Regions from separate parts of the Homo sapiens genome. Here all the other regions are linked to region 1. The links come from fine-mapping of genetic effects on gene expression. A gene starts in region 1. Each other region holds a variant in brackets. All regions are shown on one strand. Distances are between the middles of the regions.

Region 1 (4,629 bases):
CCAAGTTATCGGTGATCATATGAAAATTATACCTATTAATTATAATTGTTATCACCAATATGTAATAAATGCTTATAAGATTTGTGCACGTCTGAGCATTTGTTATTTGAGCTTTTGAAATCTATTCTCCAGTATCTATAGTGGATTGCAATCACAAGACCTAAGCGTATATACAACCACTGGGATTTGTATGTATTTATTCATTAAACAAATAACTTCATGACTTTTAAAAACTTACTTTCTTAAAGGTTTACAATTTTAAGAGCACATAAAGGGCTCAAGTATGATAAAAACGGCAGGAAGTTTTAGGTGAATTGCTATGGAAACATCAGAGGAGAGAGAACAAGCAGAACTGGACACTTAAAACTCCATGATGATAGAGAACATTGAAGAAAGAGAATAACAGAAATGAGACAATGACCGAAACGACTTATTGAAAGCCTGTTCTGAACCAATGCTAAGCACTCTATGACAAACAGCCTTTTTATTTCAGGAAGGGAAATGGCTCTCAGAAGAACTGAAGAAAAATAAGTAGCAAACTATGATCAACATAATCAACACACACCGGCATAATTCAGGGCACATGTGTTACAGTGGTGGGCGCTAAAATAAATTGGATATTGTTCTCATAATATGCAGATTTCTATTTCCATTATAAGCAAATGTGCTTTTCATATTCTGAAGAAGATAGTTTCCTTAAAAGTCTACTTTTTAATTAATCATAATCAAATGTATTAGGGTAAGATAAGGACCCAAAGAGCTGTTATAAACCATGGAGAAATTTGTTACTTTATCCTGTAAAATTCTGTGATGATACAGTGGCTTGCTCTATGAGAGTCTCAGGGGCTCAGGATCTTTCTGTCTTGTTGCTTCTCCATTTTTAGGGGAAATGCTCCAGGCTTTATGATCTAGTCTTTATGGTTCAAGCTGGTTCAGTTACCTGCATTCACACCAATGAGCAGGAAGAGGGTAAAGTGAATGGGAAGCCATCCTCTTTTCTTTGAAAGGGCATGACATGGTGTTGCACTTATTTCTTGTACCCTATGGGCCAGAGCTTAGTTACAAGGCCACACCAGCTTTAAGGGAGGCTAGGCAATGTTTTTATTCTGAATGGTCATAGACATTGTGAAACTTGGGGTTCCTGTTAGTATAAAAAAGAAGGTGAGAATCAACCTTGAGGAATGCCTGGCAACACTAAGACAGACTTTTAAGTGAAGATATCTCATCTATATCGGTTTAATTGTGTATATTGTGCTAGGTTATGGGAATTTTCACATAGTTGTTTTTTCAACAACCAGCAACTTCTGTGTGTTTCCTGATTCAGTGCCCTCTAACCACGCTGCATGCCTGGTCTGTGGCAGACTTTTAGTGCTAAGCTCTAAGCCCAGCAGGATCAGATGATGAACTCTGCCCACGTTTCCAGCTCCTCCCTTTTGTTGCTCAGATGTTTCGGCCAATGGAAAGAAGGCACAGTCACAAGGAACAATACCAGACATGATTTCTCTCCAGAGAAAAGGATAATTTCCTCTCATAATTAGTTCAGTACATGTAAAAAACATGGTTGTAGGGCCTAGTACTGATAAAATAGAATTTGTGCTTATATTATGCTTTACTATATATGCATATATTACATGCATGTAACTGTATATACATGCATGGGTGTACATATATACACATATATACATCTATGCATGCACATCCATGTATATAAATGTGTATGTGGGTGTATATATATAAAGTATATAAATGTGTGTGTGTGTGTGTGTGTGTGTGTATATATATATATATATATATATATATAAAACTTTTATAGCCACTAAGATTCATTAGATCTCACAAAAACAATCAGTGGAGGTTTGTCATTATCCCCGTTTCAGATGAGAGAACAAATAACTTGGGGAGAGTTATTTGTATATAACAAATATCTCACAAAAACAAGTATATAACCAGTATATAACAAGTATATCCACAAAAAATACATCACAGAGACCAAAATCAAGCTGTGTTTTCCATATGTATCATGTATTCTTTATCCTATAGATTCTCGACAGCAATATGACACTTTAAGTCTCAGATTTAATAGGTTGTTTTGAAATAGAGAAGCCATGGGGACCTTGATCGCTTCTAATGTCCTTTAGCCAGGTAAATGAGCATAGACATTCTCAGTTACTTACATCGTTAACCCAAACATTTGGTTTCAGGATCCCATAAGCGACCCATGACAGGAAGACTTGGGCTTCCCTGGCTAGAGCTTCTCTCATTAGAGCAGATGTGTGTGCCTTGCACTATCTCCTTATCTTTCCCCCTGCTGTAGGGGAGGGGCAACTTGGGGGAAAATGACTCACATTAGAGATAAGGTGTCAATGATATAATCTCCATAAAGCTTTGATTAACAGGGCCCAGGACACAGTAAGCCTTTGGCAATTAAGCTTTTACAAAAATATGCAGTTTTTAATGTCATTGTTGTTGTTCCTGTTGCAGCATTTTCCCTTGCCCTCTTTGCCTGTTCTCTGATTGTTCCTTAGCAAAGAGCAAAGAAAAAAACCAAACGTTCCAAAGTCGAAGACTTTTCCTTTGATACAAACAAGCGAAAGTTCGATTATTTGTTCAATAATTTTCCGTTGATCCCTTAGTCTTGTAGTCGCTACTTTATAACCGGTCCCTAGAAGGGGGCGGTTCTTTCCGGAAATTATGACTGCAGCTGTTTTCACTCCGCTGTGACTCAGAGCGCTCCGGGCTGCAGGAGAGGAAGGTAGGGGACCAAGCTACCGGTGCAGGGCCTGGATCCAACCCCTGCTCTGGAAGACTGAGAGCTCCACATTCTAGCTCCCTTTCCCCAGTCCCCAAATTTGTAGGGGCTCCTTGAATTGCACGCCCCATGGGTGGAGGATTTCATCCTGATGTATGATCCCCAGGAAGGTTCCTGCAAGTTTGGCAGTTTAGGGGAATCTTTTGGAGGTTGAAGGAGGGATTTAGCCATCTCCTAATCTCAAGGCCCTTCTTCCTACTTTCCTTCTCTTTTACTTTACTTTTTTTCCCGCTTTCTTTCTTTGATATAGACAATTGATGTTTTCTCAGTTTCAGGATAGTGTAAGCTGAGGAAATGAGGCTGTAAGCCTCATCTACTCCAATCAGTTGCAGCCCCTAAGCCCTTCTCTATAGAAATGTAAGAGACCGACGCAGTCTCTTCTGTAAATACGTGGACATTGGAAATCTAGGACTGAATGGAAAGGTTAAATCAATCTCTGATTTTATCCAAGCCCCACTTCTTACCCCAAATCTCCTCCTTGTCTGGTTCCGAGTTCTCCACTTCACCCCTGCCACAGGCCGCAGGGGTGTGTGTGGCCGGTGGTGCCACCCAGCTCCCCTCCCACCCTCCTAGCTGCTGAGCGGCTGGTGCTGGGACTCTGCATTCCTGAAGCAGCTACCTGGCTAGGCCGGAAGCCTTGTATTCTCCCAGCTGCCTCAGATTCATGGCTTTCAGCTTGGTGGCCAGTCTCTACCTAAGCCTTGCAAGTTGCCTTTCTGAAGTGCCATCCTGAGAGACAGAACTAATTCTGACCCAAACTAATTTTGTTTGTACTGGGAAGAGTGGGGGCAAGGGTGCAGAATAGCAAGTTTTCCTCAACGGAGGATTTGTTCTGAGCTTAGAATCAGGAAGCGAAGGCTATTTCCTTGTAGGGGTGCCCTTTGCGTCTCTCTCTCTTTTACTCTAGCCACCTTGGTGAGTATTGCCCAGCCTGAGAGCTTCTCTTTCAGCTGTTTTACTCCTGTGTGAGTCTCCTGCTTTAGGCTCTCTGCTTAATGTGTTATTAGAAATTCTTCCCTCCCCCAGCCCAGCCTGTTCTACCAGAGAACTTGCCCAGGTCAGAGGTCTGCGTAGAAGCCCTTTTCTGAGCATCCTCTCCTCTCCTCACACCTGCCACTGTCCTCTGCGTTGCTGTCGAATTGTGAGTCATTTTGCCACACTCAGTTTTTATCCAATTTCTCAAAATAAAAACAGATATGGAATGAAAAGCCTGATTTATTGGTGCTGTTTAGTGGGGGTGCAAATGTAGGCTATGTGCCTATATAATATTTAAATATATTAGAATATCTTGGATGGATACAAACAAATATACTCGTATCTTTTAATTTTGGGTCCCAAAAGAAAAGCCACAAGGTAAATGGCCTGTGGCAGGAGTCCATCTTGAATCACACAGCTTCTCACATGCAGCGCGTCTCTGAATGCCATGATCCAAAGTGAATGGTGGCAGAGGTTTATTGATTAACAGTAACAACAATAATAGGGACAATAGTGATGTCTGTCATCATTGATTAAATGCCTCCTATGGCCCATGTGCTATTGTAGGGACTTCACATGTATTAATTCACATACGATGTGTGGATATTATACTACTCATTTTGGAAAGAAAATACTGAGGCTCAGAGGGATTAGTGACACCTACTCCATATGCCCAAGGAGTGGTGAATTAAATACACTTTTGAGAAAGTGGAATTGGTATTTGAACCAGCCTCAGGGTGTTTCAGAGATTTCCTGTTTAGTAGATACCAGTGAATCTTACACCTTCCCCACCTGGGACTGCCATTTAAAAGGACCCTTATGACTGAAATCTTTGTCTCCTTTTT
Region 2 (4,629 bases), 35 kb after region 1:
TTTTAGAAATGCAGAATTTTAATCGATACCAGGAACTACTTTATTTAACAAGGCTCCCAGGTATCATGCATGCACATTGAAGTTTGAAAAGTAAAGGCTTAATATTTTCATGAAATAGGCTTATATCCAAGCCTGCCATCTAGATAGGCCCTACCTATGTAATTTCAGAAAATAGTTTCTTAAGGACCGTGAAACTTGTATAGTTAACCTCTGTGCACACAATGCTGTGACTTTACATTTATTATGCGGAGCGCTTATCGTTTACCTCCTTTTTTCTCACCCTTCAACTTCCAGACTGGGGCTTGTGGACTTAGTGCGGGGCGTTCTAAAACAAAAACTAAACGAACTAAAAGAAACAAAAAAAAAATTATCAACCTGTCTTTTGACCTCTTTAAAATAAGACAACTACAGTTTTAAAGTGGCGTGGTTTTATTTTTCCATTTGGGCTCCTGCACAGTGAAATGTTGTGCCAACTGTAAATTCCTCGAATCTAAACAAGTGTCAGTCTTCATAATCAGCAAATGGCATTTTGGCACATTTGTTGAAACCCCATTTCAAGTCTGATGCTTTATGTTTTGGGAAAGTATAAAGAACCATCTGTAATTTCAGAAACTGGTGGTCCAGGCAAGGAGCCCAGGAGAGAAGCTGTTCTCATCTCCCATTAGTTGCCTTTATCTAGTGCTTGTTTCCCCCACAGCAGCAGACTTGGCCACAGGAAAAGTGGCAGATACCATTCCCTCAAGATTCTTCCACTCAAACAGGCCAGGAGCTCCCCTGGAGGGTTCTCTGTTCTACACAGACTTACTAATGAAATCCATCCTCCGTCTTCCCCAACTCTAACACAGTCCCACTCAGGGTCACTGAGCATCTGCTCTTCCTCTCCCAACTCACAGCAATTCCTTCCTTAAAAACAGTCCATCTGCTTTCTGGAGTATCTGATTGACCAGGAGAAAACCAAAAAAAAAAACCCATGCAGTGAACTGTGTATTTTATCAGTTTTTACCTCATATATTTTGATATTCTCCTAAGTGCATATACATTTAAAATTATCATACATCCTTGGAAAATTGACTCTTTTATCATTATTTAATGCTCAACTTTATTCCTGATTTTTGTTGTTGTTGTTCTGAAGTTGGCTTTGTCTGAAATTTACGTAACTACTGCAGCTTTCTGCTGATTGGTTTTGGCAGGGTGTATCTTTCTCCATCCCTTCACTTTTAGCCTATATGAGTCTTTTTATTTAAAGTGGATTTTTGGAAACAACATGTGGTTGGGTCTTATTTATTTGTTTTTGTTTGCTTTTAATCCACTCTGGCAATCACTACTTTTAAATTATCGACCCATATCATCTATATTTAGAGTAATTATTGATAAAATTAGGTTAATATCTACCATGTTTGTCAACTGTTTACTATTTATTGCATTTTTTTCTTTTATTTTTTCATTTTTGCCTTTTCTCACTTTAACCAGGCATTTTGTGTGATTTCATTTTATCTCCACTCAATATATCCATCATATTTCTTAAGAATTTTTTTAGTTTTAGCTCTGGGGTTTGCAATATGCATTTATCACTAATTTAAGCCCACCTTCAAGTTACACTATATCACTTTACATGTAGTGCAGTTACCTTATAACAGAGTATTCCTAATTCCTTCCCATCCACTATGACATTGCTGCCATTCATGTCACTTATGTCTATATTTTAACTACCTAATTGTTACTATCATAACTTTAAACAGTTATCTTTCAGATCGATTAATAAGAAAATGAAAATACATATTTCACTTTTATTTATTTCTTCCTGACATTTCCTTTCTTTGCATAGATCTGAGTTTCTTACCTGTATCCTTTTTCTTCTTCCGGAAGAATTTGTCTTAAAACTTCTTGTAGAACAGATCTGTGGGCAATGGATTCCCTTAGTTTTTCTTTTTGTCTGGGAAAGTCCTTATTTCTTCTTCACTTTTGAAGCATAATTGTGCTGAACTTATAGCTCCGTGTGTGTGTGTGTATGTGTGTGTGTGTGTGTCTATTTTTTTTTGAGACAGATTCTCGCTCTGTCACCCAGGCTGGAGTGCAATGGCGTGATCTCGGCTCACTGCAACTTCCACCTCCTGGGTTCAAGTGATTCTCCTGCCTCAGCCTCCCGAGTAGCTGGGACTACAGGCACATGCCACCACACCTGGCTAATTTTTTTTATTTTTAGTAGAGACGGGGTTTCACTGTGTTAGCCAGAATGATCTCGATCTCCTGACCTTGTGATCCACCTACCTTGGCCTCCCAAAGTGCTAGGATTACAGGCATGAGCCACTGCGTCCAGTCGTCTTGTCTTTTAACACTTTAAATATTTTACTTCAATCTCTTTTAGCATGAATAGTTTTTGGCAAGAAATATGCTGTTATTCTTTTTCCTCTATAGGTAAAGTGTTCTCCCCCTCCTGCCCCGCAGACTTTTGGGATTTTCTCTTTGTCTTTGGTTTTCTGCAGTTTGAATATTATATTTGTAAATGTAGGGCCTTTTGTATTTATCCTTTTGGTGTTATTTGAACATTCTGAATCTGTAATTTTGTGCTTTTC[A/G]TTAATTTTGGAAAATTTTTGCTATAACTTCAACTATTTTTCTGCTTAGTTTTTTCTTGTATTTCAATTGCATGTTACACTGTTTGAAATTATCCTGTAAGTTTTGAATGTTCTGCTCTGTTTTTCCTATGTGTTTGTTTTTTATTTTGTTTTTGTTTATATCTTTACATTTAAGTTTAGGAAGTTTCTATTGGTCTATCTTCCATTCCAGAGATTCTTTATATAGCCATGTGAATGTGTGTTTGTTTTTTATTTGGTTTTTGTTTTTATCTTTACATTTAAGTTTAGGAAGTTTCTATTTGTCTATATTCCATCCCAAAGATTCTCTTCCAGGTTTGTAAATGTCAGCAGTGACTCTGAAGTCACCTGTCTCTCAGGATTTCAGAATGACTATTTACCTGTGTTCTCAGTTTCTAAAGGGTACAGATAAATGAGTTTTGTATTATTCCATTCTTGCATTGCTATAAAAAGAAAACCTGAGACTGGGTAATTTATAAATAAAAGGTTTAATTGGTTCACAGTTTGGCAGGCTATACCAGAAGCATAGCAGCTTTTGGGGAGGCCTCGGGAAACTTAGAATCATGATGGAAGGCAAAGCAGCTGGTGTCTTCATGTGGCCAAAGCAGGAAGACGAGAAAGAGGAAGGAGGTGCTACCCACTTTTAAACAACCAGGACTCGTGAGAACTCTGTCGCAAGAACAGCACCAAATGGGGAAATCCACCCCCATCATCCAATCACCTCCCACCAGGCCTACCTCCCACACTGGGATTACAATTCGACCTGAGATTTGGGTGGGGACACAAATCCAAACCATATCATGTTTGTTCAGCTTTTTCTTGTGGTAATGGTGAGAGTGATGGTTTCCAAACTCTTTGCATGTTATAGTTGAAACTGGCCTCCATGTAGTCTGATCTACCAAATCTCCACACTTCACTGACCCTTCATTTACAGAACTGTACTTTTTGGAATTTCAGAGGTAGAAAACATTCTTTTTTCTATTGTGGTCTATCCAAAGTTAAAAGTTTGGGTTTGTTTGTTTTGCACATAAACCAGTTTTTATTACTAAGTGATGTAACAAACAGACATCCTTAATGGTGAGATATGAAAATGAGGTGAGGTGTGGGGAAGAATTCAGTAATGCAGTGAGGGTCAATAAATAGACAGAGTCTCAGGTAGGGATGAGGGTATAATGTTAGGCAATTCTTCTTAAATAATAATAAGCATAGTCATAAAGCTGAAAGTGGAATTGTATAGAAATATAGTCAGGCTTACTTTTAAATATATATATATTTAAAAGTATATATATATACTTTGTCAGCGATCAAGCTCTATATAGACTTTAGAATCCATGCCTTTTTTAGTCTTTATTTCACTTTAAAAAAAAAACAGCTTAGTGAAGTGTAGTTTATGTACTGTGAAATCCATTCACTCACTTTAATTCTTTTTTGAGGTACTGTAATTAACAGTTTAACATTCAGTGGATTTTTAGGGTAAAGACGCTTAAGCTTACAAGCATGTTTTCTGCTTTACTGAGGTACAATAGACAAATAAAAATGATCACTCTGTCTTTTGATTGGAGAATTTATTTCATTTACATTTAAAATAACTATTGATAAGTGAGGACTTATCACTGCCATTTTAATTGATTTCTGTTTGTTTTGTAGTTGGCTTGTTCTTCTCTTGCTTTCTTCCTGTATTTGATTTTTTTTTGGTAGCAATTTGCTTTGATTATTTTCTCTTTATGTTTTGAGACTTTTCTTTGTGGTTATCTTAAGGCTTTCATAAAAATAGCTTGTATTTATAACCATCTATTTTAAGTTAGTAACAACTTCAACTGCATACAGAGACTCTATGATTGAAAGTATTATTATTTTTTGCTTTTAAAAATAAAAAATGTGAAATAGCTACTTGTTTTGAATATTAAGAACAAAGATTATAATACTTTATTAATAAATTAGCTGAATTATCTGATTTTGGGAGAATCTGTAATCACTAATAGATAAAACCATTAAAATGAATGTTACAGATACAATTAATACACAGCTATATATTTTC
Region 3 (4,629 bases), 220 kb after region 1:
CTCCATCTATTTTTACATTCCCCATCCTGATTGTGTGGCTTTGCTTTATAACTTTATAACTAACGAGAGCATCTTTGTCATCTGTATCCTGCTCAGAGAAGGACAAAGAGAAGGTGGAAATGGCACACATTTGCCTTGAAACAGTGTGCATCACGTCTGGAACTCAGTCACATGCAAGAGCACACTGCAAGAAAGACTGGGAAATGTATGTTTTGGAGGAAGATTGAACAGCAGTAATCTCTGCCACACTGGTATATAATGATAGTTATATCATTATATACCAGTGTGGCAGAGATTACTGCTATGATATAACTATCATTATATCAGTGTCTGCCAATTATCATCAATGTGAGATTAAATAAGACATTAAATGTAAAAATGTACTGCTCACCCTGGAACTTAGTAAGAACCAATAAAAATCAGGATTTATCTAGGCCATTCTTGTTTTTTTATTTATTGTATTGGCCAGAAGAAAATAAGAACATACTCACGTATTCTAAATTGAACAACAGAACTATGAAATATGAAATATGAAGAATACTCGTAAGACATTTTTTCTTGAGTATTTTGCTTTTATTTGTATTTCAAGACATTTTTATTTACTAAAAATAATATTCATAATTAACTGATTTTTAAAGTAGAAAAATTTTGTATAATTAAAAAGAAAATAAAATCCTGATCAATTTAGAATCCAACACCCGAGTCCTGATCCCAGCTCTACCACCTGTATGTTGTAATCTACAACAAGCCACCAACATCTCTGAGCACCACACCTACCATCCGTGGGACTGAATCTGGGATTCCCTTGCTCATTTACCTCCCACTTCTTCCTGAGGAGCACAGGGACTGACAGATGGGACAGTGTAGAGGAAACTGTGCACAACTCTCCTCCAAAGACAAACTACAACACCTGGACACGTCTCTATATTGATGTTTGTAGTGGGTTAATTCAACTCTATGGCAGAAAGACTTTAAACAGTGCAAGTGATTCCACCAGCCTCCTCCTCACTGAGGACGATTAAGTCTCTGCCCTCAAAGGGAACGCTTCTATCAATGAGTGATAACTTAATGTTTAAAGGTATTTCTTGGCAGGGTGCGGGAGCTCATGCTTGTAACCCCAGCACTTTGGCTGGTGGATCATGAGGTCAGGAGTTTGAGACCAGCCTGGACAACATGGTGAAACCCTGTCTCTACTAAAAATACAAAAATTAGCCAGGCGTGATGGCACATGCCTGTAATCCCAGCTACTTGGGAGGCTGAGGCAGGAGAATCGCTTGAACCTGGGCGGCAGAGGTTGCAGTGAGCCGAGATCACTACTGCACTCCAGTCTGGGTGACAGAGCAAGACTCCGTCTCAGAAAAAAAAAAAAATAAAGAAAGTATTTCTTTTGCACAACAAAGCCTGCAGATAAACTACATGCTTGATCTGGTGCAAAGCTTAATTAACAGTGAGTGACATGTCCTGACGCTAGAGAGAAAAACCGACTGTGCCAGACTTATGGGATTTCTCAGTTTTAGATTAGAACATATTTTTAAGTTTATCTTTTCTGAAAATAAAACTGATTTCATCTGCATTTTGAGGGTCTTCACATGAAAGATCAGTGACCCAGTTTAATCCACCTCTTTGGCCATTTCAAACAGTGATAAAATACATAAAGTATGGACACACCTCTGAAATGTCCACCGAGTACCAACTAGCACAGATATTATTTACTTATTTAAATACATTTTTTAACTAAGGAAAATAATTTTATCAAAAGGGACAGCAAATAAAAGAAATGGTAAAAATAAACCTCCAACCAACTTCAGCTATTTTGTAAGAATAGAATTTGTTAAGGGTTAAATCAGGCATGTTGATACCAGGATCAGCAATCAGGAATGAGCAGCCATTTCAAACCATAAGTCAAAAATTTAGTAATGCTGAACATCAAAAACAATAAGCCAACAAAGAAGTTAGGATGAATTTTTTAATACCAAAATATTGAGTAGAGATTATAAAATGGAAAAATAGTAAATATCGTTATAGTTATGTTAGAAAATAGTTGTCCATTTCTATATAAGATTGATGATTTTTGAGTAGTCATATTTTTGTCTGATTTCCCAAAGGAAAAATAATCTACCCTCCTATTCCAGAAAAGACTGATACGATTTGTTAAATTTGGTAAATCAATTTTTTTTCAAATTATCATATCTCTCTCAGCTACAGTTTGAGGTTTTCATAGCTTAAAATCCATATGCAAGGAACACATGAAAACCAAGAAAAGCAAGTGTGATTTGGCTGTTCCTAGGACTCCCAGCCCTCTGGAATTAATATCAAGCAATGTCATCTTTTACACCACTAAGATAAATCCTATGATCTCCACAATTTCCTAGAGCCTCCAAGGAGAGGAGAATTCTAAGTAAGGGATTTCATTTTCCATCATTTTACTTTCTAAATTGTGTCTTCCTAAGTAGAATTTCAAACACCACTCATTATTTTTTTTATCAAGAAGTTGTTGCTATTCCTTCTCTACCTAATTCCTCACAAATGTGGCCACAGCTTTTCCATTTACATTCCCCAAATAATAACACC[A/C]TGTGCATGTTATAATTGTTATCGAAGCTTAATGGAGAGTACAAGATACGGTGCTCCACAGAATAGAATACAAATTCAGATTACTCGCCAAAATTAAAAATAATTTAAAAAATTTAAAAATAACAGGAAATGAAAGTGGTTTCTACAGTCTTACTGACCATTCTCTACAGAGGGATCTCATTTATCAGCCGTGTGTCTCTTTGAGTCCTTTCACTCCCATGCTTAGATCTATCAAATAAATGATCCTGATAACATTTCAAAGTCATTTTTTTATTTTCCGAAAAACTCACCTCCTGTTTGACTTTTTTAAATTATCTTTAGCATATATTCTTTAAGAAAGAGTATTCGTTTAACATTTAAATGTATTTTGAACCAACCCAAATGTCCAACAATGATAGACTGGATTAAGAAAATGTGGCACATATACACCATGGAATACTATGCAGCCATAAAAAATGATGAGTTCATTCATGTCCTTTGTAGGGACATGGATGAAATTGGAAACCATCATTCTCAGTAAACTATCGCAAGAACAAAAAACCAAACACCGCATATTCTCACTCATAGGTGGGAATTGAACAATGAGATCACATGGACACAGGAAGGGGAATATCACACTCTGGGGACTGTGGTGGGGTGGGGGGAGGGGGGAGGGATAGCATTGGGAGATATACCTAATGCTAGATGACGAGTTAGTGGGTGCAGCGCACCAGCATGGCACATGTATACATATGTAACTAACCTGCACAATGTGCACATGTACCCTAAAACTTAAAGTATAATAAAAAAAAATGTATTTTGAGGCTAACAGTAAAAAAAATTAATTAATCAGTAATTAATTTAGTTTCATAGATGAAGAAGCCACAAATACCAAGAAACATATTTGCAGATAAAGAATTCATCCAATTTGAGATATGCCATACATTGGATAATTCTTATATTGATTATTAAAAGTGTGCCATATTTTACTTTATGGACTCAATTTAAGATTTCTTTTTTTTATTATACTTTAAGTTTTAGGGTATATGTGCCCAATATGCAGGTTTGTTACATATGTATACATGTGCCATGTTGGTGTGCTGCACCCATTAACTTCATACTAGCTTAAAAGATGTCCTCTTTCCCAACAATAAGAACCGTCAAACTGTTTTCCTAAACAAGCATAAAAGAAGCGATACACATTCTGTTAGACATTTATGTATCATTCTGGAACAAAGCACAGTCAATTTCCAAATTAGAAATGTTTTCTTATATTCCATATTAACTGAAATAAAAATAGTAAAACAGAAACAAAATGTACTAAGAAGAGCAGTGGACTTGAAATCAGAAGGCAAAATGTTTAGTCTAGACTTTTTCATTAAGAAGTTGTGTGACTAAGTAAATCATTACCATGAAGAGCTTCACTTTCCCATCCATGTAATAAATAAATGTCCTTCTTTTATGTGCTGGTTTGTGTGTAAAAATAAATAAGAAAACTATTTGACCAAAAAAAAGCTTAATCTATGCTGTTTAAAGCTGCAAAGTAGGTTATACTTACTAGTCCTTAAGAAACTTTTCATCTCTGGCTTTTTTTTTTTTTTTTTTATTGTTACACTTTAAGTTTTAGGGTACATGTGCACAATGTGCAGGTTTGTTACATATGTAGACATGTGCCATGTTGGTGTGCTGCACCCATTAACTCGTCATTTAGCATTAGGTATATCTCCCAATGCTATCCCTACCCCCTCCCCCGACCCCACAACAGTCCCCAGAGTGTGATGTTCCCCTGCCTGTGTCCATGTGTTCTCATTGTTCAATTCCCACCTATGAGTGAGAACATGCGGTGTTTGATTTTTTGTCCTTGCGATAGTTTGCTGAGAATGATGGTTTCCAGTTTCATCCATGTCCCTACAAAGGACATGAACTCATCATTTTTTATGGCTGCATAGTATTCCATGGTGTATATGTGCCACATTTTCTTAATCCAGTCTATCGTTATTGGACATTTGGGTTGGTTCCAAGTCTTTGCTATTCTGAATAGTGCCGCAATAAACATACGTGTGCATGTGTCTTTATAGC
Region 4 (4,629 bases), 43 kb before region 1:
CGCACTAGGGTCTCAGGGTTTTTATAGGCACAGGATGGGGACATGGTGGGCCAGGGTGGTCTTGGGAAATGCAACATTTGGACCTGAAAGCAGGAGTGCCTGTTCTCCCCTAGTTCCATGGGCACAGGTCCAGGGGTGGAGCCCTCCCCAGGGACCCGCCGTTCTCCTCCCAGCCCTTCCTTGCCCCCTCCCATATCAGTACTGTGCAGAAAAATTGAATTATGAAATTATAGTGAAAAGGTCATTACATGTTAGCCAGTTCACATTTTCTCCCAGTGGAGAACCCACTCTGCTTGGTCCCTCATGTCTATTTAGCTACCTTCCGTAGAGCAGAAATCTTACACCGCCAGCATAGTTTGTGTCACAGCTATCATATTCACACACCCTACTTCATGTTATGGAATAAAATGGAGCCCTAACCAAATTTGTTTAATTATACAAAAATAAAGTTTAGTTACTTTTTTGAGGTTCTTGCTCTGTCTCTCGGGCTAGAATGCAGAGATACAATCCTAGTTCACTGCAGCCTCAACCTTCTGGGCTCAATCGATCCTCTCACCTCAGCCTTCAAGTAGCTGAAACTACAGGCATGTGACACCATGCCCAGCTAAGTTTTATATTTTCTGTAGAGACAAGGTTTTACCATGTTGCCCAGGCTGGTCTCAAACTCCTGGGCTTGAGTGATCCTCCTGCCTTGGCCTCCCAACGTGCTTGGATCACAGGTGTGAGCCACCACACCTGGCCTAGTTCCATTTTTAAAACTGTTTACTTGCTGACATATCTATTTGCTGAAGGTTTTAGAATGCTCTTGTCAGAATAAAGTTTAAAAAAAGGCTGTAATTATTTTTAATAATTTTATTTTTGTAGGTTTTCACATTTTGAATGTTAATTCTTGTTTCAAGAGGATTTCTGATTATAAGTAGAATATCCTTTTGTGACTATGAGAGTGTGTGTGTGTGTGTGTGTGCGTGTGTGTGTGTGACTGTTCTCATGGTGGAGGCGTAGGAAAGTAATAGTAATAGTAGTGTTCTTTCATAGTGGCCTCAGATGAGGAAGTGGGAAAGACTATAAATATCTTTCCTGCTTATAGCATGTTAAAAAGCACTTATGTGTGAATCAGCAAAATACCGGGGTTCTAACAGTGGTTCCACTAATAATAGCCTGTGTGGTCCTGAATAAATTATTTTGTCTCTATGGCTTTAGTTCTAATATTTGTAAAATGAAGAGGTTGAACTAGATCATTTTAGAGGATTCTTTCACATCTACAAATTGTGTACCATTACAGGAATTTTCATTTACAGGAAGATGTTCATGACTTTGGGGAAAAAAAGTGTCTAGAGGTCTTCTAATTTCTGATTTTGGTAGGGCAATGATATTTCCATTTCCAGTAGTACTCTTGATTTTGAAATCCCGCTCTTGAAACAGGACTCCGAATTAAGGTGAAATACCTAACATCGGCCGGCAGATGGCACTATTGGGGCACCGACAACCAGATTCCTCTTCACTAACAAGTAGCTTGCAATAAAGACCCTGGAGCTGAATCAATAGGATAAAGAATGGTTGAAATTATTATTAGAACTGTGTTAGAGAGGTCTGTGATGCTTATGATTTCTGATGGCACCACCATGTGCTATAGTCTTTCTAGAGAGCCAGTTAAATAACCAGTCAATTGCTACCATTTTTACCAATTGGTGTCAGTAGACCCACGACTCTTTGTGTGTAAACAGCCATTGGGTTCACAAGGTGTTTCAGGTAAGAATGGAGAAAGTCTTGATGGAAATACAGCTGGCAAAGGTCACAGGACCCTGCCTGTGTTTACAGACTGCACAAGAACCACTTGGTGCTAAAAGCACGTGGCCGACAGATCGGCTTCAGCACGTACCTTCATCATTCCTCTTCTGAGCTAGCAGAGAAGGGAATTTGACTTCTTTTTTTTTCCTTCCATAGAGCGGGGCTTGAATTCCTTTGGCAGGGAGTCCCCAAAGTTAATTTTAACCCAGGAAATTGTGCATTAATAACGTGATACGAGTTTTGCTTTCAACAAAAGAAAACAGAATAAAAGGAATTTCCCAGCTACAGGATATTCTGACTATTCTGTGACATACAGTTTGATAAAACTTACACTAAATCTGACGGAAAGGTTTGTTTGTGATGGAGAAGGAAAGAGAGAAGTGCTTGTCCTTTTGTCTTATGTAGTCCCGCAGGAATACACTGACTTATTTCTACCTTTTCCACATCTTTTCCTTTTTCTTTCTTTCTTGTTTTATTTATTTATTTATTTATTTATTTATTTATTTATTTATTTATTTTGAGACGGAGTCTCTCTCTTGTCACCCAGGCTAGAGTGCAGTGGAACGATCTCTGTTAACTACAACCTCCACCTCCCAGGTTCAAGCAATTCTCCTACCTCAGCCTCCCGAGTAGCTAGGATCACAGGCGTGCGCCACCACGCTTGGCTAAATTTTTTTGTATTTTTACTAG[G/A]GACAGGGTTTCACCGTGTTGGCCAGGCTGATCTTGATCTCCTGACCTCATGATCTGCCCGCCTCGGCCTCCCAAAATGCTGGGATTACAGGCGTGAGCCACTGCTTGCGGCCTCCTTTTTCTTTCTTCTATTTTCCCATAACTCATACATATTTTTGTTTCATTTTGCTTTACCTAAAAGATCTCTGACGTATATCTTTTCCTTTCTTCTCCAAATCAAAAACGCTAAGTAAACTTGAAACTGATAGAGGTAAGAAACAACTTACTTTCTCCTCCATTTTAATTCCTGGTTGCAAGTAAAAACATCCTATTATATTCCTCATTTTGCATTTGTTAAAATTCCTCCTGCGCTTTTCACTATTTTCAAAGTTTTAAGTTTCTTTCTGTGAAAACTTGCTTATCTCCAGATCTTAGTCTTAAGATTTTTTGCCTTTTTTATTAACAATTGCTACCAATTAGGAATCTCAGAAAAATGAAAGAGAAAAGATTTCCCCTTCCCGTAACACCATAGCAGTAAATAGCATTTGGAATTGTCAGAACCTTTTTGATAAAATGATGTAGGAAAACATTCACAAAACTATGGGCCTTGAGAAAATGTACGGTGTTGCACTTCTTTTCTTTATAATTTTTATAAAATCGTCCCCTTGAACTTTCCTTAATAATGCAAACTTTTAGGACACTCACCTTGATTGGAAAAATTGTTCTACGTCCTCTAAAATGTAATGCTTCATCTCTAAAATATGTTTTGCTATCTGGTTGTTTTAGTTAATAATATGTTACCTTAGTTTCAGTTTTTACACATAAATTTCTATTTTTCTGAAACTATAAATACTCCAAAGAATTCTTTTAGACAGAACTATTTTCCTCTTCTTGGAACTACCTTTGCAAAGATTAGAACACTAGCCGCAGCTACTCAGGAGACTGAACAGGAGAACCGGGAGCTTGAACCGGGAACCAGAGGTTGCAGTGAGCCGAGATCGCACCACTGGACTCCAGCCTGGTGACAGAGTGAGTCTCCATCTCCAAAGAAAAAGAAAAGAAAAAAAGAAAATGATGGCAGTGAAATACATCTGATCTAATGAGCCTGATGGAGGGCAGGAAAGCCCCAAAATTGAAAGCTTAATCCCAAACTTATGACCATCAGAAAAATTTTTAACAAGTAATATAAAAAGGTTTTCCTTTCACAGTGATGTAAAAATAATCTGGGAAAAGACATAAGAATATAACTATGTTCCTTTGCGTTTATAAAGCAGGGAAATAACCAAGATTATACACATATGAATGAACCATACATATGAAATAAGTGTCTTAGTTGAGATGATAGTTTAAAGTGATTGTTCATTAATGTAAACTCTTAAAGAAAAATATTTCTATTAATGGGTTAAGAATAATTTGACTTATTCATAAAATGAATTTTTATAGTCATTCAAGTTGAGGCAGCTATCTGTTACTGATGTGAGAAAAAGCTTTAGGGAATAGGAAAATTAGAGTATAGTATCATAGCTATAATGTTATTTACTTGTGTAAATTTGTGTGTGTAGCATATGCGTGTGTCTTTGGTGGAAAGATGATCACCAAATTGTTGAGTGGTTATTGCTCGATAGATTTCAGTAGATTAAAAACAATTATTGTTTGTATTTTTCTTTATTGATAGTATCTTTACAAATTCAACATTAGCACATTTCAATATAAAACATTAAATTGTTTTATCAGAAAAGGGTCACAATCCAGACCCCAAGAGAGGGTTCTTGAATCTTGTGCAAAAAACAATTCAGGACAAATACACAGAGTAAAGCAAAAGCAAGTTTATTAGGAAAGTAAAGGAATGAAAGAATGGCCACTCCATAGGCAGAGCAGGACATTCCCAAAAGCAAAAGGAAGAATTACGTCCACCTTAGGTACAATGCTTGTTTATATATAAGAAACAAAGCAAAACAATTGTGGGGAAGGTCTACTGTTAGGGGATCTTTGGGGTGTCACTTTTCTGACCGGAAACATCTGTGACCAGTGGCGCCTTTGCTTGAGATTTGGTGGGGCCCACTGGGCTCATTCTGCCTACTTGGCCTTGCAGGCTGTGCTTGGCTGACGCTACTGGCCTTGATCCCATGTCTCCCAAGGGCGAGTAAGGTGGGAGCGGTGAAGGGTATGTGA
Region 5 (4,629 bases), 21 kb after region 1:
GGAACTGTGCTAGATAAAAAGTAAGTGCTATATAAAATTTTGCTATTATTGTAATATTTTAATTTTTATTATCATCCACATGCAGCACTGTCGTGAGTTCTAGTTAGTCATCAATATATTTTTGTTGTTGTTGTTTGATTGTTTAGAGACCGGGTCTGTCACTTTGTTGCCTAGGCTGCTCTTGAACTCCTGGCACTGGCTTCCCAAAGTGTGAGCCACCACACCCAGCCAATATTGTTTAGTTTTGATTTTATACAAAAGACCTTAAAAATATAACAGCACTTTATAACATAGGCTACAATTCAAAGATCATGTTAGAAATTTAAAGGTTGTGATATCAAGATGCTGTCAGGCTATAGTATTTAGGAAGTATTGTTACACGTAGGTCCAGTTAGAAGTCTGTTCCTGAGTCTTACAAGCGTAGAGCATTGATCCTAATGCTGATGCCACTAGACTTGGGGATGATGGCTCACACTAAGAAAGACTGATACATAAACCAAAATTGCAGGGTATTAATTTACAATGAAAACTCTGTCTGTCATGCCTTCCAAAAGCGCCTGTGCTAGTACTACCAATGTATTCTTTGTTTATATATAATTCTATTTGGGAAATCGCATTATGTTTAAGAAGTTACTTGGTGCACATGGACTAAGGCAGGGCAAGAACTCTCCATTTAGAAGTGCAGGAGGCACACTTCCTTTCTCTAAGAATAGTCTTGCTAGGGGAGATATGGTACCAGCACATCATTAGGTAGGAACTGGTGTTAGTTTCTATCTTTCTGTTAGTTTGCCAGAGAGATCTTGCAGTAAGACAGATCAGTGCTCCAGTGACATTGCTATCATTTAGTAGTTGCATGATCTTGGAAAGATTTCTTAAATTTCCTGGGCCTCCATTTCTTATCTGCAAAGTGAAGCAGAAGCCTGCCTTTTAGGGGTCTTGTGATGATTAAATTGCATCATTGATTTAAGGCATTTTTATACCTCCTAAAATATAGAATATGCTCAGTAAATGGTAGCTGTTACACTTTTGGTCAAGAAAGTAGACTATTTCCTTATGTATTTTTGGCCATTATGTATTAATTTTATATTTTCACTGTTTAATGCCTTCCTCTAACCTCTGTCCTGTTACAATTGCAGGTGTTTCTCATTTGGTATTGGAGAAGGCACCTCCACCAGCCTAATAAAAGGTATTGCCCGGGCATCAGGGGGCACCTCAGAATTTATCACAGGCAAAGACAGGATGCAGTCCAAGGTGAGGGACAGACTGACTGTGTCTGTCTGGAGGTGGCAATCCAGACCAAAGTGGAACGGGGTGGGGAACACTGTGTAAGGGCAGGGGTAGCAACTTTCCTCCAGGATACCTGTTCCTATATCCCCAAGGCCTTAGGCTGTATACTTAGTCAGGCTACTTTTGGCCTCATGTAATAGAAGCCCACTGTAGTATCTGGAAATATGACATCTGGTCCCAGTAGCTGCAAGCTCAGAGACAAGATGCTGACAGGGATCTGGGCCTTTGCATTTAAGACCAGACACAGACAAACTAAGAGCTTTGACTGTCAAGACTGAGATTCTAGGTCTGCGCTTTAGAACCTCTTTTGTACTACATGCATCCTCCATGCAAAAGATACAAAGAAAAGGAGAAGGAATAATCATGATATGTCTAATGGATCGGAAGAGGTAGTAAATTGCTATTCCATTTCATCTTTCTGCAAAAGGAGAAGACCCCTCTGGTGGTATTTCTTTTTTTTTTTTTTTTTTTTTTTTCTGAGACGGAGTCTCGCTCTGTCGCCCAGGCTGGAGTGCAGTGGCGGGATCTCGGCTCACTGCAAGCTCCGCCTCC[C/T]GGGTTCACGCCATTCTCCTGCCTCAGCCTCCTGAGTAGCTGGGACTACAGGCGCCCGCCACTACGCCCGGCTAATTTTTTGTATTTTTAGTAGAGACGGGGTTTCACCGTTTTAGCCGGGATGGTCTCGATCTCCTGACCTCGTGATCCGCCCGCCTCGGCCTCCCAAAGTGCTGGGATTACAGGCGTGAGCCACCGCGCCCGGCCTCTGGTGGTATTTCTAAGCTCCTCTTTCCCAGTAGGTGCCACCTTTATCTAATCCCCTTCTCCAAGGGTCTCGTTACTCAAACATTTTCTTTATTTACATTTACGTTACTAAATATTTCAGCTTTGGCTTATTCATATGCAAAGCTTCTTCATATATAAAGCCCATCTCCTAGAATAGTATTGAGGAGTAGGCATGACATGTATTATGTATCACATCTGATACATAATAAATGTCCAGTTAATTGTAGCTGCCATTGTCTGTATCATTTGTGTTTATTCTGTTCTCTTCCCCACATTAGGCTCTCAGGACTCTGAAACGCTCTCTGCAGCCTGTGGTAGAGGATGTCTCTCTGAGCTGGCATTTGCCTCCTGGTCTGTCTGCTAAAATGCTTTCCCCAGAACAGACTGTCATCTTTAGGGGTCAGAGATTAATCAGCTATGCCCAGCTGACCGGGAGGATGCCAGTGAGTTCCCATTCTTATTTGTTCCTCTAGTCAAAGAGCTACCACATGACCATTCCACTAAAGCTGGTAGGTGGATTTCAATCTCAGCCAGAGACGGCACTTGCCAAGTATAGCTAGCCTACTTCCTTCCCATCATTTCAGGTCTCCGGTTTCCTAGGCTACCTGATTCTTCATCAGATATTTTCATACATTGTTTTGGGTACCTGCCCCTGTTCTGATCCTTCCATGGATGATCAGAACATTACATGTTCCGTCATTTCTACTCATCTCTAATTTGCAGGCAGCAGAGACAACAGGAGAAGTATGCCTCAAATATACACTCCAGGGCAAGACTTTTGAGGATAAGGTGACATTTCCTCTACAACCCAAGCCTGATGTCAAGTGAGAATTCAGTTTTCCCTTCCTTCCTTCCTTCCTTCCTTCCTTCCTTCCTTCCTTCCTTCCTTCCTTCCTTCATTCCCTCCCTCCCTCCCTCCCTCCCTCCCTCCTTCCTTCCTTCTTTCCTCTGCCATCTTTGGGGATTAGATTTCTTCTCTTAATTCTGGGCTCCATTGTAATTGTTTTCCTACAATCATTTTTTATTTCTAAACCACCCAAGTCTTCTCTCTCCCCTTATCTGACTTTATCTTAACTCTTCTATTCCTAACTTTTAGGAGCCCTGAGAAACTGGTATATGGATGTCTTTCCCTACATTTCAGTACTTTTTTTTTTTTCCTTTCAGCCTCACCATTCACCGCCTTGCTGCCAAGTCCTTGCTCCAGACCAAGGACATGGGCCTCAGGGAGACTCCAGCAAGTGATAAAAAAGATGCATTGAACCTTAGCCTTGAGTCTGGTGTCATAAGCTCCTTCACAGCTTTCATTGCTATCAATAAGGAGCTCAACAAGCCGGTTCAGGGGCCTCTGGCTCATAGGGACGTCCCAAGGCCAATTCTGTTGGGTGCTTCTGCCCCATTGAAGATAAAATGCCAATCAGGTAATGAGTTTTATTCCATTCAAACTCATATAGAATAAAAGATTCTGACTATCTGAGCACATTATTTAAAGGAAAGGGCTGTGAAATGTTCTCAAATTGCTTTGTTTTCCTTATACCTCCACATCTAGGATTTCTGGTTAGTGTTAAATTTTTCTGTCCCAGGGAACTAGAATGCATCCCATTGGCAAGGAGATTTAAAATAATCCAAGAGAAAACAAAAAACAAACATTAAAATGTAGAAAGTGCAGGTAAACCCTGAGTAACCAAACTGCCTAATCTGAAGCTGATTTATCTTTTTTATTGAGATATAATTCAAATATCATACAATTCACCCATTTAAAGTGTACAGTCCAATGGGTTTTAGTATGTTCACAGAGTTGTGCAACCATTGATTGCCACAATCAATTTTAGAGCATTTTCATCACCTAAGAAATAAACTTCATAACTATTAACAGACATTTCCCATTTCTCTCCCTGACCCCACCTATCTTCTCCTCCACTCCCCTCTCCACCAGTCCCAGTAATCACTTACCTACTTTCTATCTCTATACATTTGCCTATCCTGTCTTTATATATTTGTTCTGGACTTATTTTCCTTCTTTGTTTTTGAGACAGGGTCTCACTCTGTTGCCGAGGCTGGAGTGCAGTGGCACAATCATGGCTTACTGCAGCCTCAACCTCTCAGGCTCAAGCAATCCTCCCACCTCAGCCTCCTGAGTGGCTGGGACTACAGGTGCATGCCACCATGCCCAGCTAATTTTTTTGTATTTTTCGTAGAGATGGGGTTTTGCCATTTTATCCAGGCTGTGGCTGGCTTATTTCACTTGACATAATGTTCTCCAAGTTCATCTATGTTGTTGCAAATAACAGAATTTTGTTCTTTTTTATGGCTGAATAATGTTACATTGTGTATATATAGTACATTTTCATCATTCATTCATCCACTGATGGATACCTAGGTTGATTCCATGACTTGGCTATTGTGAATAGTGCTGATATCTCTTTGATATTACTGATTTCTTTTCTTTTGGGTATATATCCAGCAGTGGGATTGCTGGATCATATAGTACCTCCATTTTTAACATTTTAAGGAGCCACAGTTTTCCACAATGGCTATACTAATTTACATTCTCACCATGGTGTG

Direction of the effects. Positions count from the first base shown, and alleles are read on the strand shown. Sizes are in standard deviations (SD) of each study's normalised expression. Not every link is listed here.
For the expression in iPS cells of the gene that starts at base 2,720 in region 1, C is the low allele of the variant in region 5 and T is the other (moderate effect, 0.51 SD a copy in HipSci).

Evidence for each region. PIP is the estimated chance that this variant, and not a neighbour inherited with it, causes the effect.
Region 2: its variant is the best candidate, but not a certain one, in a credible set for the expression of VWA5A in blood mononuclear cells (TOPMed, PIP 0.89).
Region 3: its variant is the best candidate, but not a certain one, in a credible set for the expression of VWA5A in whole blood (INTERVAL, PIP 0.58).
Region 4: its variant is the best candidate, but not a certain one, in a credible set for the expression of VWA5A in whole blood (INTERVAL, PIP 0.77).
Region 5: its variant is the best candidate, but not a certain one, in a credible set for the expression of VWA5A in iPS cells (HipSci, PIP 0.60).

Annotation. Positions count from the first base shown.
Region 1 is chr11:124,112,731-124,117,359 of GRCh38, forward strand. VWA5A (von Willebrand factor A domain containing 5A) reads left to right here and starts at 2,720. Exons shown (of 19, transcript NM_001130142.2): 1 at 2,720-2,752; 2 at 3,836-3,950.
Region 2 is chr11:124,147,583-124,152,211 of GRCh38, forward strand. It overlaps VWA5A (von Willebrand factor A domain containing 5A), which reads left to right. Exons shown (of 19, transcript NM_001130142.2): 19 at 1-139. Among named protein-coding and RNA genes, the nearest start is that of OR10D3, 33 kb to the right of the region's middle. The variant A/G (reference allele first, on the strand shown) is at 2,574.
Region 3 is chr11:124,333,019-124,337,647 of GRCh38, forward strand. No RefSeq gene overlaps it. Among named protein-coding and RNA genes, the nearest start is that of OR8D2, 15 kb to the left of the region's middle. RefSeq lists a silencer at 793-991. The variant A/C (reference allele first, on the strand shown) is at 2,572.
Region 4 is chr11:124,070,074-124,074,702 of GRCh38, forward strand. No RefSeq gene overlaps it. Among named protein-coding and RNA genes, the nearest start is that of OR10G7, 31 kb to the left of the region's middle. The variant G/A (reference allele first, on the strand shown) is at 2,479.
Region 5 is chr11:124,133,784-124,138,412 of GRCh38, forward strand. It overlaps VWA5A (von Willebrand factor A domain containing 5A), which reads left to right. Exons shown (of 19, transcript NM_001130142.2): 12 at 1,137-1,251; 13 at 2,346-2,510; 14 at 2,791-2,891; 15 at 3,232-3,485. Among named protein-coding and RNA genes, the nearest start is that of VWA5A, 21 kb to the left of the region's middle. The variant C/T (reference allele first, on the strand shown) is at 1,840.